Linked DNA regions of Homo sapiens. The protein of the gene in region 1 interacts with the protein of each later gene in a pairwise test. Each region holds a gene or a part of one and is shown in the gene's direction. Other genes may lie near its edges.

The links. Proteins that work in one complex are often made in the same cells at the same time.
Region 2: the proteins of MYO5B (region 1) and TRIM3 interact in binary tests that used the Homo sapiens proteins (3 or more experiments, as listed by UniProt).
Region 3: the proteins of MYO5B (region 1) and KIAA1549 interact in a two-hybrid assay, tested with the Homo sapiens proteins (one study listed by BioGRID and IntAct).

What each region holds. Positions count from the first base shown.
Region 1 is NC_000018.10:49,835,123-49,842,160, reverse strand, and holds part of MYO5B (unconventional myosin-Vb), read left to right. Parts: intron 1-706; coding exon 707-796; intron 797-1,735; exon of another isoform or gene 1,736-1,798; intron 1,799-2,796; exon of another isoform or gene 2,797-2,866; coding exon 2,867-3,017; intron 3,018-4,358; coding exon 4,359-4,644; intron 4,645-5,275; coding exon 5,276-5,450; intron 5,451-6,736; coding exon 6,737-6,817; intron 6,818-7,038. UniProt on the Homo sapiens protein: May be involved in vesicular trafficking via its association with the CART complex. The CART complex is necessary for efficient transferrin receptor recycling but not for EGFR degradation.
Region 2 is NC_000011.10:6,456,916-6,463,953, reverse strand, and holds part of TRIM3 (tripartite motif-containing protein 3), read left to right. Parts: intron 1-5,657; coding exon 5,658-5,889; intron 5,890-6,106; coding exon 6,107-6,258; intron 6,259-6,477; coding exon 6,478-6,658; intron 6,659-6,924; coding exon 6,925-7,038.
Region 3 is NC_000007.14:138,978,364-138,985,516, reverse strand, and holds the start of KIAA1549 (UPF0606 protein KIAA1549), read left to right. Parts: upstream 1-4,127; 5' UTR 4,128-4,247; coding exon 4,248-4,434; intron 4,435-7,153. UniProt on the Homo sapiens protein: May play a role in photoreceptor function.

The sequences.
Region 1 (7,038 bases):
AAAATAGCATGTCCCAGCCCCAGCAGTCACTTTCTATTCAACCTCATTTCTTTTTTTTTTTTTTTCTTTTGGTCGTACCTCATACCACTCTGTCATTTAAATAATGATAACGCTTACTTGACAGAATGAGCTGCGTGAAGTCATCAGCTTTAATGCAGCAGCTGTCTCATAGCTGTTTGGGTTGCTGAGCAGGCTTTTTCACCTAGTTAGGGTTTGTAGCCATTTTCTAGAGAGTTAAAGCCATGATGCATCTGACATCTAGATAAATGGGACACCAAACTATTTTGCTGTTATGCTCTTCAGCATCCCTTGTGTTGGATAACTGGCAGTTCAGAAACAGAGCCAGCTAGCCCAGGCGGTTAGACGAGAGCCCGGGGCTGTTGGGGCAGAGCCTCATCTGTCACTCAGCTTTGCATTCATTCTTCAGCCATGGAAGGCAGCCTGTCCTTTATGTGTGTCCCTGTATGTGCACCACTGATCAGGAGACCAAGGTGGGGGTTCTGTGCACCATCCCTGGTGGTAGAGGAACACTCACACAGCCTCTCAGCAATGGGTCTCAACCCCGTGACTGGCAAGTGCCCTGCCCAGCCTCAGGGCTGCTCAGGAACACTAGGTAAGGGTAGGAAATGTGGGGAAAGAGGTACCGAGGAAGCATTTCACCAGATGGGAGCCACTTAGAGCTGAGGATGTCCTTTTCTTTTCACAGAAGCACAATGATGACTTTGAGATGACGTCATTCTGGTTATCCAACACCTGCCGCCTTCTTCACTGTCTGAAGCAGTACAGCGGGGATGAGGTGAGTGGGGAGCCAGGCACCCAGGAGGCATTCCTGCTTCATCCAAATGTGGTTGAGAAGTGCTTTGTATACCCTCAGAGGTCAGTGGGGTCTTTGGAGCACCCTTGGGGACCTCAGACCGTGGGCACACCTTATCATGCCTCGTGGCTGGAAGCAGCAATAAGGCCAGCCACAGGAGACCTGCCTCTAGGAGGCCTTGATGAGCCCAAGGGGCCCCAAAAAGCACTCCTGGGTTATGTAAGTAGAGTCTGCATAACCCATGATCAATAGAGGCCCTGGGAGTCTCCATGAAACTCTTGTAACCTGACATTTCTGTATCAGCTCTAGAAGCCCCACTGCAGTGGATACTGGCAGGGAGCTCAGTTGCCTAGTGGGTCACCCTGTCTCCTAAGCCAACTGATTAATCTGTCCATTTCAAGATAGACAAAGATGGCCACAAGAACAGAGGCACACCATAATCAGAACTACGTGTGTGCAAACTGACCTGGAGGCCCAGCTCCATGCATTTATCCAAATTGGATTCCTTGACCTGAGGCCCAACTACTAACCCCATCACTTCACAATCCACACCGGACCTGTAAGGCCCAGCTTTTTCTGGAACTCACATTCCTAGCTTTGGTCCCTGAAAGAACTTCTCCCATGCTCTGCACTCTGCCCAATGACCTAGTAATATGTGGCTTGTTTCCATTCTAGTTTCTCTGGTGAGAATCCCAGCTTGTTCCAGATATGCCCGCTCACAGGTTCCTGTAGGTCTTCCAACTTTTCTTCCCCTTCCTTTCACATATCTCACCATCCACCCTTCCCAAGGTCAAGACATAGTGTAAACCAAAATAGTGCGACCATTTTTAAAGCTTTATTCCATCTTTTGTGCCAGAACCAATTTTGACAGACTCTTCTCCCTGGGTTAGTAAAAGGATATGCCCTTCCTTTCAGTCTTACCTTCTTTGCAGTTGGCTTGACGCCATCTCTCTCCTAAGAACCAGCACTTCATTTGATGGCCTGCTTTTATTATAAAAGAGATGGGCCAAAGGTTAAAGAAATAGCCATTTCAAACCCCATGACTTCTGTTACAAAATCATAATATCCAAGCATTTACTTGAAGCATAGAACTACATGTAATGTTATTTCATTGAGGTCCATCACTTTACCCAATGTTATACACATTCTAAATGGGAGGTTATATAAGGCTAGGGCAGGACCTAGAACTCCATTACATTAGGTTGTGGTTACATGTGCTCATATTCTCTGGGTCAAGAGCTGAACCACAGCATGACCAGATCCGTGTAGTCCAAATAACAAGGAAGAATGATTGACTCTATCTTCATCATTACAATTATCCCCTTTTCTGCCTGCTTTTTTTCATATTAAGATGGCTTTGTATTTGACACAGTACAACAGGCCTTGCTGAAGATGGTTGCCCTTTTGGGAGCACTAATCTTTTTGGCAGATACTGGTTTCCCTAGGCCTGAATGAAAAGGACATTGGTCACATGAGCCCTTCTGATATCAGCAGTTCCCTTAACTTACATGTGATTTCATCTGATTAATACAGAAAGCTAAGAGGACACAGTGCGGTAGCTATGAAATCACTTTAGTTCATCTATTAATTCTGATAACCAGTGATAGAATCTGTATAAAATTTCTCCTCATACAAGCGTATAATCTGGCCCATGGCCACACTCCTTTAGAGGCTGCACATCATCTAACATTTTAGGGGGACCTGATATATTGAGGAAAGCGCTGGATGAAGGGAAAAAGCAGGGATCCCTTTCTCTGGACCTGGTACCAACCTAGGTTTTGCTACCGTAGGGAAATCACTTCGCCTCAGGGATTTGGACTGAGCGATTCAGGCTTTCTCTCTCATGTTGAGTTTTTCTACATCCTTCAAGTTCAAGGGTCATCAATGAGGCCTCAAAGAACTGACAGGCTTTTGTAAAACATCATCTACATAGGGAGGGCCTGAGTAGGCCCCCTGCCCACCAAATAGATGACTAAAGTTACCAGAGCCCTGGAAGTTGTGCTGGGCCCAGCAGACCAGAGAACTCAGTAGTGCACGCCTCTCCCTCTGCAGGGCTTCATGACTCAGAACACTGCAAAGCAGAATGAACACTGTCTTAAGAATTTTGACCTCACCGAATACCGTCAGGTGCTGAGTGACCTTTCCATTCAGATCTACCAGCAGCTCATTAAAATTGCCGAGGGCGTGTTACAGCCGATGATAGGTAAGCTGGCAGCAGGAGAGCTACATCACTCATCATGGTGTCTGAAATGAGGGGAAGGCGTGGTCAGCACCCTCTGCCTTTCGGGAACCAGATATCTTAGCCATGACCTCCAGAAAGCCAGAACCTTCCAGTGAAGGCAGAACTGAGGTGTGCACATCATGCTTAAAAAGCTGTGAAAGTATTTGACACAGTGCAAGAGGCATAGATGACTTTCCCTTTATCTCTTTTTCTGTAATATGTTGTATTTTTTCCCAAATTTTAATACATAATAAATGTAAACTCAAAAGGTACAAATGCATATACAGTGAAAAAGCATAACCCTCTTAACCTATTATGAACTTGATTCATGGAAAAAAGCAGGAGTGTTCATGCGAAAGGACACAGCAGTCGGCACGATGCATCAGTATTTATTAGACACTTGCTTTGAACCAAGCAGTGTACTTGGGCACTGAACATGAAATCAGAATTGAGAAATGAGAGCAGTTACATTTTCAATCGGAAGAAAAATTATGTGTAGATGCATTACTCACTGTGCTCTGCAAAGGCTGGGAAGGAAAGTGTACCTGGACCTATTCATAATGCTTTCCCCAGGTTCTTACAACACAAGTAGGTTATGAGTGAATCCCAAGAAGGACCAATCTAGAAATACATTACTTGAAATGAGGTTCATTCCAAACCCTCCTTCCTGTCTGGAAATCTTTTTATAAGGCACCAGACAGAGGGAGAACTGACATATCAAGCTGGAGATACTCAGAATAATGTGAAGGTTAATAGCAGCAGTTCTGGAGTCAGACAGACTTGGGTTTAAATCCTGGCCCTGCCACTCCCTATCAGTGTGACCTCAGACAAGTTATTTAACCGCTTTATACCTCAACTTCCTCATAAAAATGGGTAGTACTTTATAGAGTTGTTGGAAGATTGAAAGAGATACTGAACATAAAGCCCCTGGTGCATAGGTAATGGCTGCTTAGTAAGTATGACGGACCAATGAAGCTCTTATTTACATAGTCAGTGGCTGGACGAGGATGACACCCAGGTTGCTCAATTCTCAAACTGTGGACTTCAGCACAGGCGATACCAAATCGAGCTGGTACATGCCCATCATCTTTGTCTAATTGCCAGTAAATTAAATGAAAATGCTGTCCACAGCTGTTTTATTCCATACAGAAATCAACACATTAGAAATTTTTTGCCAAATGTTATAAGTTCCTAAGCATGTCAACATTGCACACCTCTGGATGGTATCATTGCTAAAGCCCGGAGCACTAAATGATTTGAGTGGTCCAATCTTTGCATTGTTAGTGGGGAATGCAAGCTTCTCTAACTGTGCTTTTATTTCAGTTTCTGCCATGTTGGAAAATGAGAGCATTCAGGGTCTATCTGGTGTGAAGCCCACCGGCTACCGGAAGCGCTCCTCCAGCATGGCAGATGGGGATAACTCATACTGCCTGGAAGCTATCATCCGCCAGATGAATGCCTTTCATACAGTCATGTGTGACCAGGGCTTGGACCCTGAGATCATCCTGCAGGTATTCAAACAGCTCTTCTACATGATCAACGCAGTGACTCTTAACAACCTGCTCTTGCGGAAGGACGTCTGCTCTTGGAGCACAGGCATGCAACTCAGGTAAGGGAGGAGCACCCCCCAACAACACAGATAGAGTGGGCCCTCACTGACTGCAGCTAGAATCAGAACACAAGACTGCTGTTTCTAAAAATGAAATCCAAATCTAATTGACAGTCCTTGTCTCCATCAGTCTGTGACTCAAATCCATCACCTTTTTACCTGTTGGTGAAATCCGTCGAACACTGAGATGGTTGACTTGGTAAACAAATTAGTTCAAAGCTTAAAGATGTTGACATACTCTAAGTTAAAGACTGAATACAAAGCAGATAGGTCAGAGAGAAAACTCAATGAGTTAAGAGGCATGAAGGCTCACATAGAAGTATAAATACATTTGTGAATGTTAAATATAAATACTTACAATTCAGTATATTTAATGCCTGTTTTTCCCTGTTAACTTATGTAGACACTTCAGGTATTTCATCTTTGCTTGATTTTAAGTACCCACTCATTCATTTATTCATTCTTTATTCAACAAATAGTTCCTGAGTGCAAGGCACTTGCCATGCTTTTTAACCGTGTGAGATAAATAATGGCACTAGCTGCAGCGGGCCTGCAAAACACAACAGGTGTCCCCTTCTCAGTGAATTAGGAGGACCGGCTTAACATAGCTTGCTTTCTACCTATGGCTAAGGTACAATATAAGTCAGCTTGAGGAGTGGCTTCGGGGAAGAAACCTTCACCAGAGTGGAGCAGTTCAGACCATGGAACCTCTGATCCAAGCAGCCCAGCTCCTGCAATTAAAGAAGAAAACCCAGGAGGACGCAGAGGCTATCTGCTCCCTGTGTACCTCCCTCAGCACCCAGCAGGTACAGTCACTTTGCACCTCTGTCAACATGGTATTCCAAGGAAGCCCTGAGTCCATTCCAAGTCTGTTCTCGTTGGTGGTTATTTGTTAGTGTTGCACTCCCACCCTTTATATACCCCTAATGAGACAATTTTGAAGTGCAGCTGATGGGATATTCCTAGATGAACCAAAAACCATTTGGTCTGTGAAACAAGATGCCACAGATACTGTTTTCTAGTAACTCTCTATCCCTCTTACTCACTTAAAAAGATAAGGTAGCAAACTCACAAAACGTTAAGTTTAGGTAAAAACTTCTTTAAATATAATGAATTCTGGAATGTTTCTTACATAGAAATCCACAAATTTTCAGAAATTGGCAGCATCAGGTATTTGCTTTCTTTACAAATATAACTGTAAGAAAAACCTTTTCTTTAAAACTAATTGCAATATGGTCATATTTTCACTCACACTCATTTATATTGTTTTAAATGAAGTCATTAAGAACTTAGGGGCATTTAAGTGTTACTTTCCTTTTCCCTAAAAAATGTATAACCATGATTCAGTTGCCGACACATTGCCAGTCCCTGAAAGATAAATAACAAAATCCAAACTCAGTACAGAAAAACACATCTTAATATAGCAAAGTGAACACCTTTCCTTACCTCCTCTGCTTACTATTAAAATATTAAATATCTAACTCTTTAAAAAACTGCTTCCTTCTGTAAACATTTCCAGAAAGTCTTCAAACATTTTTCTTCTCTTTAAATACATTTCACTTAAAGTAAGTTTCCTTCTAGATGCAGCTGGCATTGCATTTGGGCAGTCTACTTCCACCAAACCAGTGGTAGGCAGACAAAAGAGTATCTCCTGTTCAAATACTCATTTGTAAACAATGTTGGGGGACAGGGGGTAGTTAGGTATTAAACAAGACCTTTCTCATCTAAGGTAAGATCTCCAGTACTCTTCAGAAGAAACCTTTAAATTACTAGTAGATATGAGGCTGAGGATTTCAGGCAACTGCATTCTAAACTCCTCATTGTGTATACCAATGAGCATAGTGGGGAGGGGCAGGTGGGTTTACAGGAGACATGAGTTCGGTGAGAGGGCTCAGATCCACCTGACAAAGCTGTGGGCTCTAGTTTCCTGGATGCAGGCTCCAAGTGTAAATGTCAGTCCAGCTCCATCTGTGTTGTGGGCCTTGTCTAAAGAGGATCATACTCTTGTACCAATGTCACATATTCTTTAAAGTTCAAAAGTTGTCTCATGTTCATTTAGCTCTGTGCTAAATTCCGTTTTTATCCCCAACAGATTGTCAAAATTTTAAACCTTTATACTCCCCTGAATGAATTTGAAGAACGGGTAACAGTGGCCTTTATACGAACAATCCAGGTGAGTTTTAAGATAGTAATTTTATAAAGTCCAGTCTACGACTATAAAGGAAATTAAAAATTTGGGCTTTAATCTTGCTTCTCTTTATTACTAAAATACTGGTTACATATATGCTGGGAGACCTTACATTCCTAGACTTTCTACTTAGGTAAACATGAACCGTATCACCCATGAGTAACTTACTGTTTACACACAGAAAACTCAACTTTTATCATCTCTGC
Region 2 (7,038 bases), on another chromosome or scaffold:
CTGCCAGCCCTGCTCTTTGAGATTCCAGCTCCACTGCCCACTCTCCTTTATCAACTGGAAATGGCCTCAGTTTTCCTGTCCATTCAAGTTCTTCTGTCAGCCTGGGGACAACCACCCTCTTGTGCCTGTTGGTTCTTAACTGTTTCTTCAGGGTTGTCCCCCATTCCACCTCAGTAACACTCCCTCCCAACCATGCCCTGAATCTTATAATCCAGAATCTTATCTGTAGTCATAAACGCCAACGTTCCACTCCTGGCTCCCGTTACCCCACTCCCATTACACCACTTTCGATACAATATAGATATCTAGCCCCTTTGACTGCTCCCTCTTTTCCCAGTCACCAGCTGCGTCCTGGCCTCCCTGTCTTTCCTGCCCATCCTGGACCCTGTGGCTGACCGACTGGCTCCCCTGCAGTTCCTTCACATCTTTATCCTTTGCAAAACCCATGCAATAGAAGCTCAATGTTGGATCAGAGCTGAAATTGGATGTCTCTGCACTTTCTCCTGTGCCCAGATCACTGAGCACTCCTGGAGAAAATCTGGCTGAGAAATTGTAATAACAGTAGCTACCATGTATTGATTGCTTACTGTTTGCCAGGGACTGGCTAAGTGATTTATACATACTGATTTCCTTAATCCCTGCAACAGATACTTTATTAACTTCATTTTATTTTTTTATTTTAATTTTTTAATGTAACTTTTCATTTTAATTTTTTTTGGTTTGTTTTTTGTTTTTGTTTTTGTTTTTTTGAGACAGAGTCTCTCTCTGTCACCCAGGCTGGAGTGCAGTGGCGCCATCTTGGCTCACTGCAATCTCTGCCTCCTGGGTTCAAGTGATTCTCCTGCCTCAGCCTCCCAAGTAGCTGGGACTACAGGCGCACGCCACCACATCCGGTTAATTTTTGCATTTTTAGTAGAGATGGGGTTTCACCATGTTGGCCAGGCTGGTCTCGAACTCCTGACCTTGTGATCTGCCCGCCTCAGCCTCCCAAAGTTCTGGGATTCCAGGCGTGAGTCACCGTGCCCAGCTTGTTTCAATTTTTTAAATTTTATTTTTTTTTTAGAGATGAGTGTCTTGCTATATTGCCCAAACTGGACTTGAACTCCTGGGCTCAAGTGATCCTCCTGCCTCAGCCTCCTGAGTAGCTGGGATTACAGGTGCAGGCTACCACACCCAGGTATCCCCATATTAGAGAGGAGGAAACTAAGGTTCAAAGTCAGTAAATAATTAAGAAATATCTCTGGCCAGGTGCAGTTGCTCATGCCTGTAATCCCAGCACTTTGGGAGGCCAAGGTGGGAGGATCACTTGAGCCTAGGAGTTCCAGAGTAGCTTGGGAAACAACATAGTGAGATGCAGTCTCTAAAAAAGAATTTAAAAATTAGCTGGGTGTGGTGGCATGCACCTGTAGTTCTAGCTAATCGGGAGGCTGAGGTGGGAGGATCATTTGAGCCTGGGAGGTGGAGGCTGCAGTGAGCCATGATCACATCACTGCACTCTAGCCTGGGTGACAGAGAGAGGCTCTATCTTAAATTAAATAAACAAATAAAAAAAAAGAAATATTTCCAAGGCTACACAGTAAGTAAATAGCTGAGATCTGAATCCAGTTTTCACTGCAGAGCCTTCACTGTCAACTAGTATTCATTCATGTATCCCTTGGTCCCTGCTCTCAGAGGATGTTCTAGTGGGCAGTGACTGACAGTAAGCAATCAAGAAAACGAGAGCTGCAGCTTGTATTAATGTTTTACAGGATATAAACAGAGAGAAGTAGGGGTGTTTGGGGCAAGAACTATTCTATATAGTCATCAAGGAAGGCTTCCCTGAGGAGGTGACATTTGACCTGAGTTCTGAGGATAAGAAGGAGACAGATTGTTCCAGGCAATAGAAAAATCTGTGCAAAGGCCTTGAGGAAGAAGTAGACAGGACATGTTCAGATACCAGAAAAGAAACCAGTGTGGCCAAGTGAGGAGTAAAGTGGGATGAGGTGAAATTGGAGAGAATAAGGGCAGTTTAAGGGGGAGCTTGTAGGTTTTCAGAAAGTGTTTGGATTTTATTTTAAGTGCAATGGGAAACCATTGGAGTTTTTAAAAATATATATATACAGGGAAATAATGTAATGTAAAAAGTTCACCCTAGCTGTTATGGAGAGAATGGATTATAAAGGAGCAAGAGTGGAAACAGAGACCAGTTAGGAAGCTATCGTGAGCCAGGTACACTTGACAAATAGGAAGGGGATATTGCTGAATTAGAAGGTGTTTTGCATGGGGAAACACTAGATTCAGTGAGCTTGGAAGAAAGCTGCTGAAGAATAGAGTAGAATGGTTGAAATGCAGTGATAGTTGATGAGAAGTGGGTGTTAGTGGGAGCATGGGAAATGGGGGAAAAGATCACTGGGGGTGAGAAGGTCAAGGAATTAAGAAATCACAATGGGGGATGGATGTTAGTGCCACTGAGAATGATGGCAGAGTGGTGCGGGGGGTAATGGAAGAAGAGAGTGAGCCAAGAGAAAGATGTCCACAATTGGAAGTGGGGGCAACCATTAGGTTAGCAGAGACAACAATAAGGAGGAGTGATAGAGATAGAAGGCATGAGCTTCAAAGGAGCTAGAGTTGAATAGTTCAGAAATGTTCCAGTTGGGAAGAGGGAGGGCTCAAGCCCACCTTCTGGCCCTAAGGAGTGTGGAGTATGAGACAGAAACCACTCTACTTGAGAGGACTGCAAGGAAAAGTAAGTCACAATTAAATAAGTTACACTGGGCATGGTGGCTCATGCCTGTAATCCCAGCACTTTGGGAGGCCGAGACGGGCAGATCACCTGAGGTCAGGAGTTTGAGACCAGCCTGGCCAACATGACAAAACCCCATCTCTACTAAAAATACAAAAATTAGCCAGGCGTGATGGTGTGAGCCTATAATCCCAGCTGCTCGGGAGGCTGAGGCAAGAGAATCGCTTGAACCCGGGAGGTGGAGGTTGCAGTGAGCCAAGATTGTGCTACTGCACTCACACCTGGGTGACAGAGCAGGACTCCGTCTCAAAAAAAAAAAAAAAAAAAAAAAAAGCCACCAAAAAAACAAAAACAAAGAAAACACAATTAAATAAGTTAATACTTGTGAAGCACTTAGAATCATGCCTGGCACATAGTGTTTGTCAGATTTTAATTAAGATCCTAAGTTATAGGAAACATTAAGAGTTGAGATTGAGGATATGGGAGAGTTTGCATAATGCAGATCTTCACTCCACAAATTTGAGGTCCCCAAATACAGCTGCCTTCAGTTCTGATGTCTGTTTCTAGTAAGTGTCCTCTGCTCTCCCATCACTGACTAATCTGAGCCATCATCAGGCCCCTGAATCCTCCATCCTTCACTCTCCTATGTCCCTAGTGCCTCTCTATATCCTCCTCTCCTTTCCTCCTTCCCTCCATTCAGAGACTGACGTCCAGTCCTCCTCTTCAGGCCAATCCGAGGCACTCCCCAATCCTCAAGATCTTCTCCTCTCAGTTTTGTAGTCTCTTCCCCCTCTCCTTCTCTCCTGACTCCTCCATTCATAAACATGCTCAAAACTCCCATGCCAAACAGGTAAAAACTCTTTCTAGCACCATCCAACCCCTCAACCAGCTCCTCATTGGAACTTTCAAGCTCCCCTTCACTCAACTTCCAGCAGTCAAGCTTTCCTTCTCCTGCCACTCCCTCCCTGTTTTCCCTACAGACAAAGTACCCTCACATTTGCCAAATTCAGTGGACATTTTCCTGTCCTTACCTTACCCAACTCGTCAGCTGCTTTTAACGCTGATGACTACTCATTCCCTCCTGGAAATGTACCACTCAGTTTTCTGCCCTAACACAGCTGCTCTTCCTGCCTCTCGGCCTGGTCTTCTTTGTTGTCCTCATTCAGTTTTTGCTAAGTGCTCTGTCCCTCTCTCTTATCACTGTCTATGCTTTCTTGTCTGATCTCATCCTCTCCCAGTGCTACCGAAGCCATCTAAATGTTGATGGCATGCCCATCTCTTGTCTCTAACCTTCATTCTCCTGTCTACTGGTGACCTCAACCTGGGTGTTTATTGTTACAGTAAATTCAACCAGGACAAGGCTGAACTTTCCTATAGCTACTCCTCTTTCTATGTTTCTCATCTTAGTGAATGTCACCACTATCCACTCAGTTATCAAAGCTAGGAATTTGGAAGTCAGCGAAGACTCATCATCTCTCTTGCTCCCCATATCTAATCAGACAACACCTCCCACCTTCCCTCCTTCTTAAACACTTCTCAAATTTATTTCCACCTCATAGTCTACATTACTATTGCCTAAATCCAGGTCTTCTTCACTTCCTACCTAGATGATTGTAAGAGTATGCTGGCTAAGCACATACTTTGCATTTGAAGACAGGCTTCAGCACCTACTGCTGTTGTTACCTTGGGCCACTTGCCCTTTCTCCTGCTAACAGAAACGTAATCAGAAAGCATGGCACCTGGCACATATGCACTTAATAAATGGTAACTAGCTGGTGATGCCACTGCCCTCGCCCCCCAACCCCATCTGCTGTCTCATTCCCTTTAAATTCACTCCCCACACAGAGGGGGTGAAGAGGAGCTTGGTAAAATATAAACCTGGCTATACCACTCTCTTGCAGCTTCCTATTGCTGGCAGGATAACTTCTAAGCTCCTTGACTTCTGTCACCATTCCTTGCCTTGGACTTTGTCTCTAGCCAGCCACATCAAACTGCTTACAGTTGCTTATTCATACTATGCTGCTTCTTGCTGCCTTCTGTATCTGGACTACCCTTCCCCCTCTGCCTGCACCATTCTTTGGTCAGGCTAACAATTATTTATCCTTGAAGATTTAGTTTGCATCAACTCTCTGAAGACTTTCCTGGACACCCTCTCCACCTGCTTGAGCCAGATGCATTTCCTTATCACTTTCTATCATTCCTTATATTAATAATAAGTAATACAAGTAGCCTACCATATATAGTGCTATTATGAGTCAGGCATTTTACATTTAATCCTCTTCAAATATAAGTAAGTACTTTACATGTAATCCTCTAACACTCTGTGAAGTCTGTACTTCTCCATCTTACAAAGGAAGAGTCCTTGGCTTGTCAAAGTTATGTAACTTGTCAGGGGTCATACAGTATAACAGGTGACCAACGGGGTGTTGGGCCTGGGCAGCCTAGCTCCAGGACCCATTCCCTTAATCATCATGCTATTTACTTCTGTACTATTCCTGTGACTTTTTTCTCTGTAGATGGGAAGTATTTTAAGGGTAGGCACTGTGCTTTATCTTTTTGTCCCCAGGGCTTGGCATAAATTTGGCAAGAGTAGACAGTAGTGTTAATGAGTTAAAGAAGTTGGGCAGGGGGTGCCTAGTTGCACATTCCTATGAGAAGCATTTGTAAACACCTGTGAAAGGTGAGCCTGTGTGCACACTGTGAGGAATGTGGATAGTCTGCTCTTCTGAGAGGGGTCGGGGTGTGTTCCTACTCAGTTGTAAGGGGCAAGGCCATTATACCTGCTGGCAGATGAGATGTGTCAAGCAGAGAGGTTTTAAAATGAAGTGTAATGGCACACCTGTGAGGGAAGGGGTTGGCACCCATGGGAAGTATAAGGAAGGGTGCACTTATGCCACCCCACCCACTCTGTTCTTTGACTCTCCTTCCTGGACAGATGTCTCCAAAACTATATCCCTGCCCAGAGCCTGACGCTATCCTGTCCAGTATGCCGGCAGACGTCCATCCTCCCAGAGCAGGGCGTCTCGGCACTGCAGAACAACTTCTTCATCAGCAGCCTCATGGAGGCAATGCAGCAGGCACCTGATGGGGCCCACGACCCGGAGGACCCCCACCCCCTCAGTGTAGTGGCTGGCCGCCCTCTCTCCTGCCCCAACCATGAAGGCAAGGTGGGCCCAAGCGAGGCCCAGTGAGGCCGGGACTTGGGGTGGGAGGAGGAGGAGAGGCATTGGGGGGTGCCGAGTGGCTGGGTGACAGGGTACTGCTCTGGATTAGTGGTCCAGGTAGGGGGTGCACTTAGAAGGTGAGGGGCAGGGAGGGCAGGTGGGGAGGGGACAAAGAAGTGTGATGTCTAGCCATTACCCGACTGGAGTCCTTGTACCGCAGACGATGGAGTTTTACTGTGAGGCCTGTGAGACGGCCATGTGTGGTGAGTGCCGCGCCGGGGAGCATCGTGAGCATGGCACAGTGCTGCTGAGGGATGTGGTGGAGCAGCACAAGGCGGCCCTGCAGCGCCAGCTCGAGGCTGTGCGTGGCCGGTAGGCACTGGGCAGGGTCCTGGGCTGGTGGGGCCACAGGGATGGTGTCTTAGCTCGGGCGGGGAGGGGAATAAAGGGTCTGGGAAGGGCAGAGATGGAAGTCTCAGGGAGGTCTCAGGAAGGAGATCTCCATGAGGGCAGCAGTAGGTTCCCCAGGGAGAAGGGAAAGTTCGGCAAAGCCACCCTCAGCAACTCTGGAATGAGATATTCCCCCTCCAGATTGCCACAGCTGTCCGCAGCAATTGCCTTAGTCGGGGGCATCAGCCAGCAGCTGCAGGAGCGCAAGGCAGAGGCCCTGGCCCAGATCAGTGCAGCGTTCGAGGACCTGGAGCAAGCACTGCAGCAGCGCAAGCAGGCTCTGGTCAGCGACCTGGAGACCATTTGTGGGGCCAAACAGAAGGTGTGTCTTGTGTTCACCCTTTCCTACCATCGTCCATTGTGATGGTGTTATTGCCTCCATTGTTCCTCTGTCTTCCACACCAGCTCCCCATTCCCCAGCCTAGATATTCTGCCTCCTGACATGCCCTCGGTAGGTGCTGTGGGCATCTGTGTCCTCTGTCCACAGGCACCCTCTTGTATTTTATGCCACAGTGCTACAACTTCAGTAATCACAGAGACTCCCCCTGTGCCAGTCTGCTCACCCACTCCTCCCCTACCCCTCATCAGGTGTTGCAAAGCCAGCTGGACACACTGCGCCAGGGTCAGGAACACATCGGCAGTAGCTGCAGCTTTGCAGAGCAGGCACTGCGCCTGGGCTCGGCCCCGGAGGTGTTGCTGGTG
Region 3 (7,153 bases), on another chromosome or scaffold:
AACTCCTGGGCTCAAGCAATCCACCTGCCTCAGCCTCCCAAAGTGCTAGAATTACAGACGTGAGCCACTGTGCCCGGCCTAATTAATCTTACTGATCATTTAGCACATGACTCTACGGGGCGCTTACTTAGTAGGGACTCAGTAAATATTTTTTGAATGTTTATTCTGGCTACTTCTCCACTTTGCACAGTTGTTCCCTCTGCCTGACACCCTCTTCCCCAGCTATCCCCATGGCCCAATGTCACCTTAGTAGGGTGATCATCCCTGACTATTCTATTTAACACAGTAACACTGACCCTTCCCTCACTCCTTTTCCCTCTTTGTTATTCTGCAAATTGTTGTCATCAGCCGAAGGCTCACTTACTGATTGCCTGTCTCCTCTCACTAGAACATAAGTTCCACGAGGAAGGGCCTTTGTTTTGTTCACCGTTATACCTCCAGTGCCCACTGCACTGCCTGGCATATGGTACATGCTCAAAAAATATTCATTGAATTTAATGAATGACCTTTGTGAACATTCATCTTATTTTGTATAATTCTCTTAAGAACCGAACCCACAGCTAAGCAAGGTAGGCATGTGAAGCCCATCATCAGATAAGAACATTTGAGGTTTGAGAGTAGGGTGAAGCATTTTGTTCAAGTTCATAAACTTTTCTGTGACAGAGCAGAACGCAGAACTCAGCTGTCCTGATTCCTATTCTAGGACTCTCACACTACCCTCTACCGACTTCCAGCCATCCTCTAACTTCAGTCCCTCTGTCCCATCCTTATCCAGACCCTAAGAATTGAGGGGCCCAGGTCAAGAGTGCAAATAGGGGCTCACGCAGCCCATTTCACATTTGGCCATTTTGGCCATTTCACATCGATGACCAGATTTTCATCAGCAAGTTACATGCCAAGCAAGCAAACTATTAAATATGTCTGTTCTACCTTAACAAACGTATGTCTTCAGAATGGTTAGGCTGGTTCACAGGCAGGATTCGCAGACTTCCTGCAGTTGTGAGCAGAACATCGCAGCCAGGTTGCCATGTGAATATGGGCCATGCCCGATCTTCTCTTCCCATCCCTGGTCCTCTGCTTCATTCCTATAGGTTTCATGTGCGCATCTTTAGAGATGCCTCCTGCGTAAGTTTTGCCACTCCCTAGCAAACAACTACCCCGTGGGACCAGACACACCCTTGGTGCAGCCTTGGGAGAATGGACTTGAGGAAGAGGCCACATAGGCCTGAAGATGAGCCTGGGGTGAAATGGGCAGGATTCTGGGGTCCTGGGCACCTGAGCATGGGAAGATGGGCTGCTGGTGAGGGTGCTTCCTGGGCTTCACAGACTCTGTCCTGAGGAGAGAGGTGCAGTTTGAGAAGGCCAGAGTGGGGCCCGCTTCGTCTAGGTCTAAGGATAGTACTGAGCCTACCTCTCCCTGTCTCCAAACCAGATTGTAAGCCTATCGAGGACCCAGGTTAATTTTCCCCCTCCCCTGGAGGGTGTGTGGTTTAACTGGAGACGACAATTCCAGTTGGAGTTGAGCCTTATGGAAATAAACTAACCTCTCTGGCTTGTTTCTTTATCTATGAGAATTGGATGAGATGATCTCTAAAATCGATTTTAAAATCTTACACACACACACACATTTGCACACACTCCCCTACCTCCAAGGACCACTCATCCCCTCTGAGTCTGCAGAGTAACACCACCTACCAGCTGGACTGTCAGAGCCTGGTAGACATTTTCCCAGACATGGAGGCAGAATGCCTTAAATCCTAACAGAGGTAAGATTTTGTTTTATGCCTTCAGAGCTGGGAGACTAAGGGACCCTAGGGACCTCACTTTCCACGGACACTTTGGTGTCCATGAGTCATTTCTAGTATCTCAGGGTTCCAATTTTTATTTTTACTTCCAGCTGATCAATCTCTTAATGGCAGGGCAAACACTATTGTCTTTGAGTTTGCAGAGAATGGAGAAGGAGACTCCTTTCTTTTTTCTTTTCCTTTTTTTTTTTTTTTTTTTTTTGAGATGGAGTCTTGCTGTGGCACCCAGGCTGGAGTGCAGTGGCGTGATCTTGGTTTACTGTAACCTCCGCCTCCTGGGTTCAAGTGATCCTCCTGCCTCAGCCTCCTGAGTAGCTGGGATTACAAGCACGTGCCACCATGCCTGGGTAAATTTTTCTGTGTTTTTATTAGAGACGGGGTTTGCCATGTTGGCCAGGCTGGTCTTGAACTCCTGACCTCAGGTGATCTGCCTGCCTTGGCCTCCCAAAGTGCTGGGATTATAGGCGTGAGCCACCGCGCATGGCCGAGGGAGGCTTTTTTCTCTGACACCAACGGGTCTAGTGTAGATGGCAGCTTGCAGGAGGCTGAGGCCAAATCTGAAGATGGAACCTCTTCACGGGCGGAATGCATGCTCTGGCTCAAACCAACGATTGTCTACTGAGGGCTTACTGGGGCTATGAGAAATCCTAAGCAGGATAGCACCATATTTGAATTTCATATTAATTTATTGGAGGTGGGGTGGGGGCTGTGTGTGCAAAGCATAAATTCATAAAAGATAAAACAACACAACAGGACAAGACCATTCAAGAGTTGCACGAAGGCAGTGGTTTGTGGTCAAATGTGCTGTTATAGAGAGTTCAGAGAATAAAGATAAGTGTGTGAATAAGAGGTCCCAGATCTATGGCCATGGTGTCCTGGGACCAGACATATCTGGGCAGTTTCTCTTAGGTACTTACCTGGGTGTGCACGCAGAACCCTCTTTGGGAGACAGGAGCAGTTACTGTAATAAACATAGGGGCTGTATGATGGGGGGTTACAATAACGTGTAAAAACACCAGGAACATCAACAAAAGCTTTTTTTAACCTTTATTCTCATTTTCCTTGAAACTACCAGGTTTCAAGTACCCACCTGTAAGGACCAGGTGTGTACCTACAGAAGAGTGCCCCTGTCCTATTCTTAGGAAGAACTATTCGCCAAGGGCAAGGAGTCCAGAAGAGTTGGAGCTGCAAGGCTGGGCAGCCCCTTCAAGGGCTGGGCCTGGCAGGGGAACCCGACTGAATAGCCGCGAGGATCCCTCTGCCAGTGTAATGATTCACCTTTTCCGCTGTCTGCCATAGTTTTTCTGCACGAGATAGTGTCCCCCACACACACCGTTAATATCTGCTTGATGCAACAATGCCAGTGGGATGCAACGATTCAAAACTTCCAATTCCTCCTCCCTAGACCCTGAAGCCACGGGGCGTCTTCAGAGTGACGTGCCTGGCACACAGTAGGTACTTGACAGATGTCAACTCCCTTCTTCCCGTTCCTCATTCCCCCCGCGGACTCCAACCCTCAAACGCTCTCTGGGCATTCTCTCCACCTCTCAGGAGCGCCACTTTCCCTAAAACGGCCTGGCCTTGCGGGTCTCCCCAGCTCCACGCCCATTCGCTTCAGCAGCCGCCTGCTCAAGGCCTGCTAAGTGCAGGGTCCCGCGGGCCTCCCAGGCCCTGAGCGCAGGGTCGCTTCCCGAAGACCCGCAGAGGTGGCCGCACCTTCTTAAGGCAGGAAGGCGGGGGAGAGCTGCGTGCGCTCTGCTCGCCCCTGCCTTGCACGCTGAGCTCTAGCGCAGGAGCCCGACTTTGTCTGGCTTTGTCCCCTCCGCGGCCCCGAGGCTGTCCTGAGAGCGCGGCGCCCCACACACCTGCTGCCCGCAAGGAGTCGGCGGGAGAGGAGGAGCGAGGGAGGCGAGAGGACCCCTCCCCCGGCTTGCCGGCCTACCCTGATCCGGGCGCCCCGGGGAACGCGCGGCGGGACCCGGGGTTGGGTGCGGGTCGGGGCGGCACCGCCCGGCCCAGGCCCCCCGAGCCCCTCGCGCTCCCTCCGGAAGGCGGGTCCTGGGGGAGGGCTGGGCCGCGCCGCCTCGCCGCCCTTGCCGCCTCTGCCGCGCCGAGCCCCGCGCACGCTGCCCCGGCCGCCCCGCAGGCAGGCAGGCAGGCAGGCAGGCAGGCGTCCGGCCGGCCGGGAGGGGGTGCTCGCCGTCCCGCGCCCGGGCCCGCGCGTTGCCGGGCAGCGGCTCCGAGGCTCCGAAGGGGGCGGAGCGGCAAGGCGGGCGTGCGGCTGGCGCCCCTGTCCTCGGTTCCGGCCCGGCCCGCCCCCGCCTCTCCGGCCTCCCTCCGCGCCGGTGCGCGGCGCCCCGTCCCAGCCGCAGCCGCAGCGGCCGCCCCTCCCGGACCCGAGAGCCGCTGAGCCGCGAGGCCGGGCCGGGGCGCCGGCCGGGAATGCCGGGGGCGCGGCGCCGACGCCGAGGCGCGGCCATGGAGGGGAAGCCCCGCGCCGGGGTCGCGCTGGCCCCGGGGCCGAGCGGCCGACGGCCTTCCGCCCGCTGCGCCCGCCGCCGCCGCCCGGGGCTGCTGCTTCCTGGCCTCTGGCTGCTGCTGCTGGCCCGGCCGGCCTCGTGCGCCCCAGGTAAGCTCCGCCGAGACCCTCGGAACGCGGCCGCGACCCCGCCTGCCTTTATCGCTGCTGTTTTCAAAACCCCGGCTTTCCCCGCCCATCCTCTTTTATTCTCCAGCTCCCTCGCCGTCCTTTCTGGAAGATGCTTTGCCATTCTTCTGGGGCCCAACAAATAAAGGCACGGGGGAAATAAATAATTAAAACGAACAAGCGAGCGGCTTCTGGCCGGTCTTGCTAAGGGGTCTGCAAAGCTGTTCTCTTGTCCATGGAACCCGAAGCGGGTCTGGTGGCTTCATCTCAGAATGTGCCTGGTTTTTCCTGCAGAATGCAGGCACCGGCGTGCTTTTTTGTCAAGGCTGTATGATGTGGCATATCGAATGTTTTGAGATACTTTATTGTCGGGGCGAAGAGGTGGATTCGAGGTGTGCTTTAAAAGAGTATTGCATTACCGGGACAAGCCCAGCGTCCCCCAGATGCGGGCAGGCCGGCCGTGTCCCCCCGTACAGCAGGACACAAAGAACATTCAAAGAAAACCTCTTGGAAAGCGCCCTGGCCACGGATCTTTCCAGGGAAATAGCTATTGGTATTACTTCTGCAAGGCATTATTAGTACAATGGAGTGTGAAAATATTTTGATTCTTAAGTGTCTGGGCATGAAAGGAGTAAGGGCTGTTTTTATAACAGATGCAATTTAGTGACTGTTCATCAGTATGGAATGAAGAGGCATGATTTATGAAGAAGCATAAGGGTTTTGTTGTGGAAGAAATGATTTAATTCCTATTGCTTCTCCAAAATGTTTATTTGTCCACCCTGAGCCTGTACACAGGATGGTCTGGAAACCGTCTCTGAGCTGACACTGCAGGCCAGCGATTGCCCCTGCACAGGCACTTGACCACTTTGAGGCGGAAAAGGAAAGGTGGAAGGAGCAGCTAGGGGTGGAGAGCTGCTGCACACAGAACAAAAACCAGAAAGCCGTGAACGCTGCTCCGAATCCTCCTTTCTCGTGGGAGCAGGGCCAAAGGGCTACTCAGTGGCTGGGAGGAATTGGAACACATTTGAAGGTGTCCCTTGGACCTGTGAGAATTATAACCAGTGCCCTAGAGGGGATGGTACAATAGAAGCACAGGGAGGACTTCAGGGATCATGGAACAGGTCCACTCTGCTTACCAAAGAGGAAACTAAGGCAGAGAAGTGCCTTGCTCAAGGTCACAGTCATCACTTTCCCTGCCTCCCACCCCCGCTCTTGGCCCATAGACATATCCACACCTGAAGCCTCTGCAGAGATTTCCCATAGCTGGGTGGAACCAGGGTTGGGGTGACAGAATGAGTCTCTTTTAGGCAGTATACAGCTAGTGCAAACACCTTACTCTAACCTAGGACCTCCCGTCTCAGTCCTGCTCCTGCGAGTTCCAGCCCTGTGTGTCCAGAGGAGAAGAGATCATTGTCAAGGGTCTCTTGGCTTTAGTCAACAAAGAGAGCCCATCTGATACTCGTGGATTCATCTGTCATAAGACACAGCAGATAAATGGTTTCCATCTCCTGAGTGCTTTTTGTGTGCCAGATGTTGAATTTTATATACACGATCCAATCACGTTGTGAGTTAGGCATAGTTATCCCCATTTTACAGATGAGGAAACTAAGGCTTTGAGTTTAGGTTGGTTTGGCTTCAGACTCTATGACATGCTTCCTTTCTGTGCCTGATGGCTTCCCCATATGAATGTGGCCATCTGGGTGTACTGCAGAGGTTGTGGAGAATATAAGTGCTTCTGGTAACTTTAAAATAAATAGTGAAGCTGTTTGCACTGCCCATCCCTAACCTTCTCTTCTTTGGAAGTCCTTTCCTGCTTCCCCTCTACCCCCAATACAAATATTCAACCTGGAGACATGAAATTAATAATATTTCCATTCTAGACCTGACATCATGGAAAGAGACTTCATCCTTTCACTGGTTTGTATATTGGCTTCAGCCGCTGCCAGGCTCATAGACTAGGAACTAAGAAGTGGAGGGCACAGCCCCTGTGCTCCAGGATCCAGCTGGAAACACAGAGCAGTGAAGGAAGTACAAACCCTTGCACAGACCATTCCCGGACAGGAAAGGCAGGATTCCTTATGGATGACCTGCTGGAGGTGACCCCATCTACTTGAAGACTGTGAGGAACGATCTTGGTGGAGGGTGGCTTCCTGATGTAGCTAGGGTGTGTGTAGGGTGCCTGGGCGGTGCTGTTGATCCTGGGAAGAGGGTGCGTTGCAGTTGCTTGGGCTGCCCTCCCAGTCCTGAGTGTGGTATTTTCACCAGGAGATTTGGAATGTAGGAGAGCTTTGCTGAACACTGCTGTGGTGGTTGGTTCTCTTTCTAAGGAATAAGCAGTGGTAGTCAGAAAATGGCATGGCTTAGACCTGTTTTGGACTTCCTATGTGAGGCAGCATTCCCTTCCGTGGCTGTCTGAAAGCTATCTCCTCCTTCAGCTGGCTTCTCTTGTTAACTTTTGTTCAATAGAGTCCACCTTCCAGGTGGTCCCCTTATTACAGTCTTTGGTTAAATCTCTATGTTAAATCGATTTCTTGTCTATTTGTATTTCATTCAGCATTTTGAGTGTGTTTTTTTAAAAAAAAAATTTACAAGTTTGGTCTTAACCATTGACTGTTGTGGAAACAACTTGTAATGCTTTGGACTTACTTTTGAATGCATTGCTCTTAAGTGATTAGCCATCCACAGTATAAAAACAAAGAAT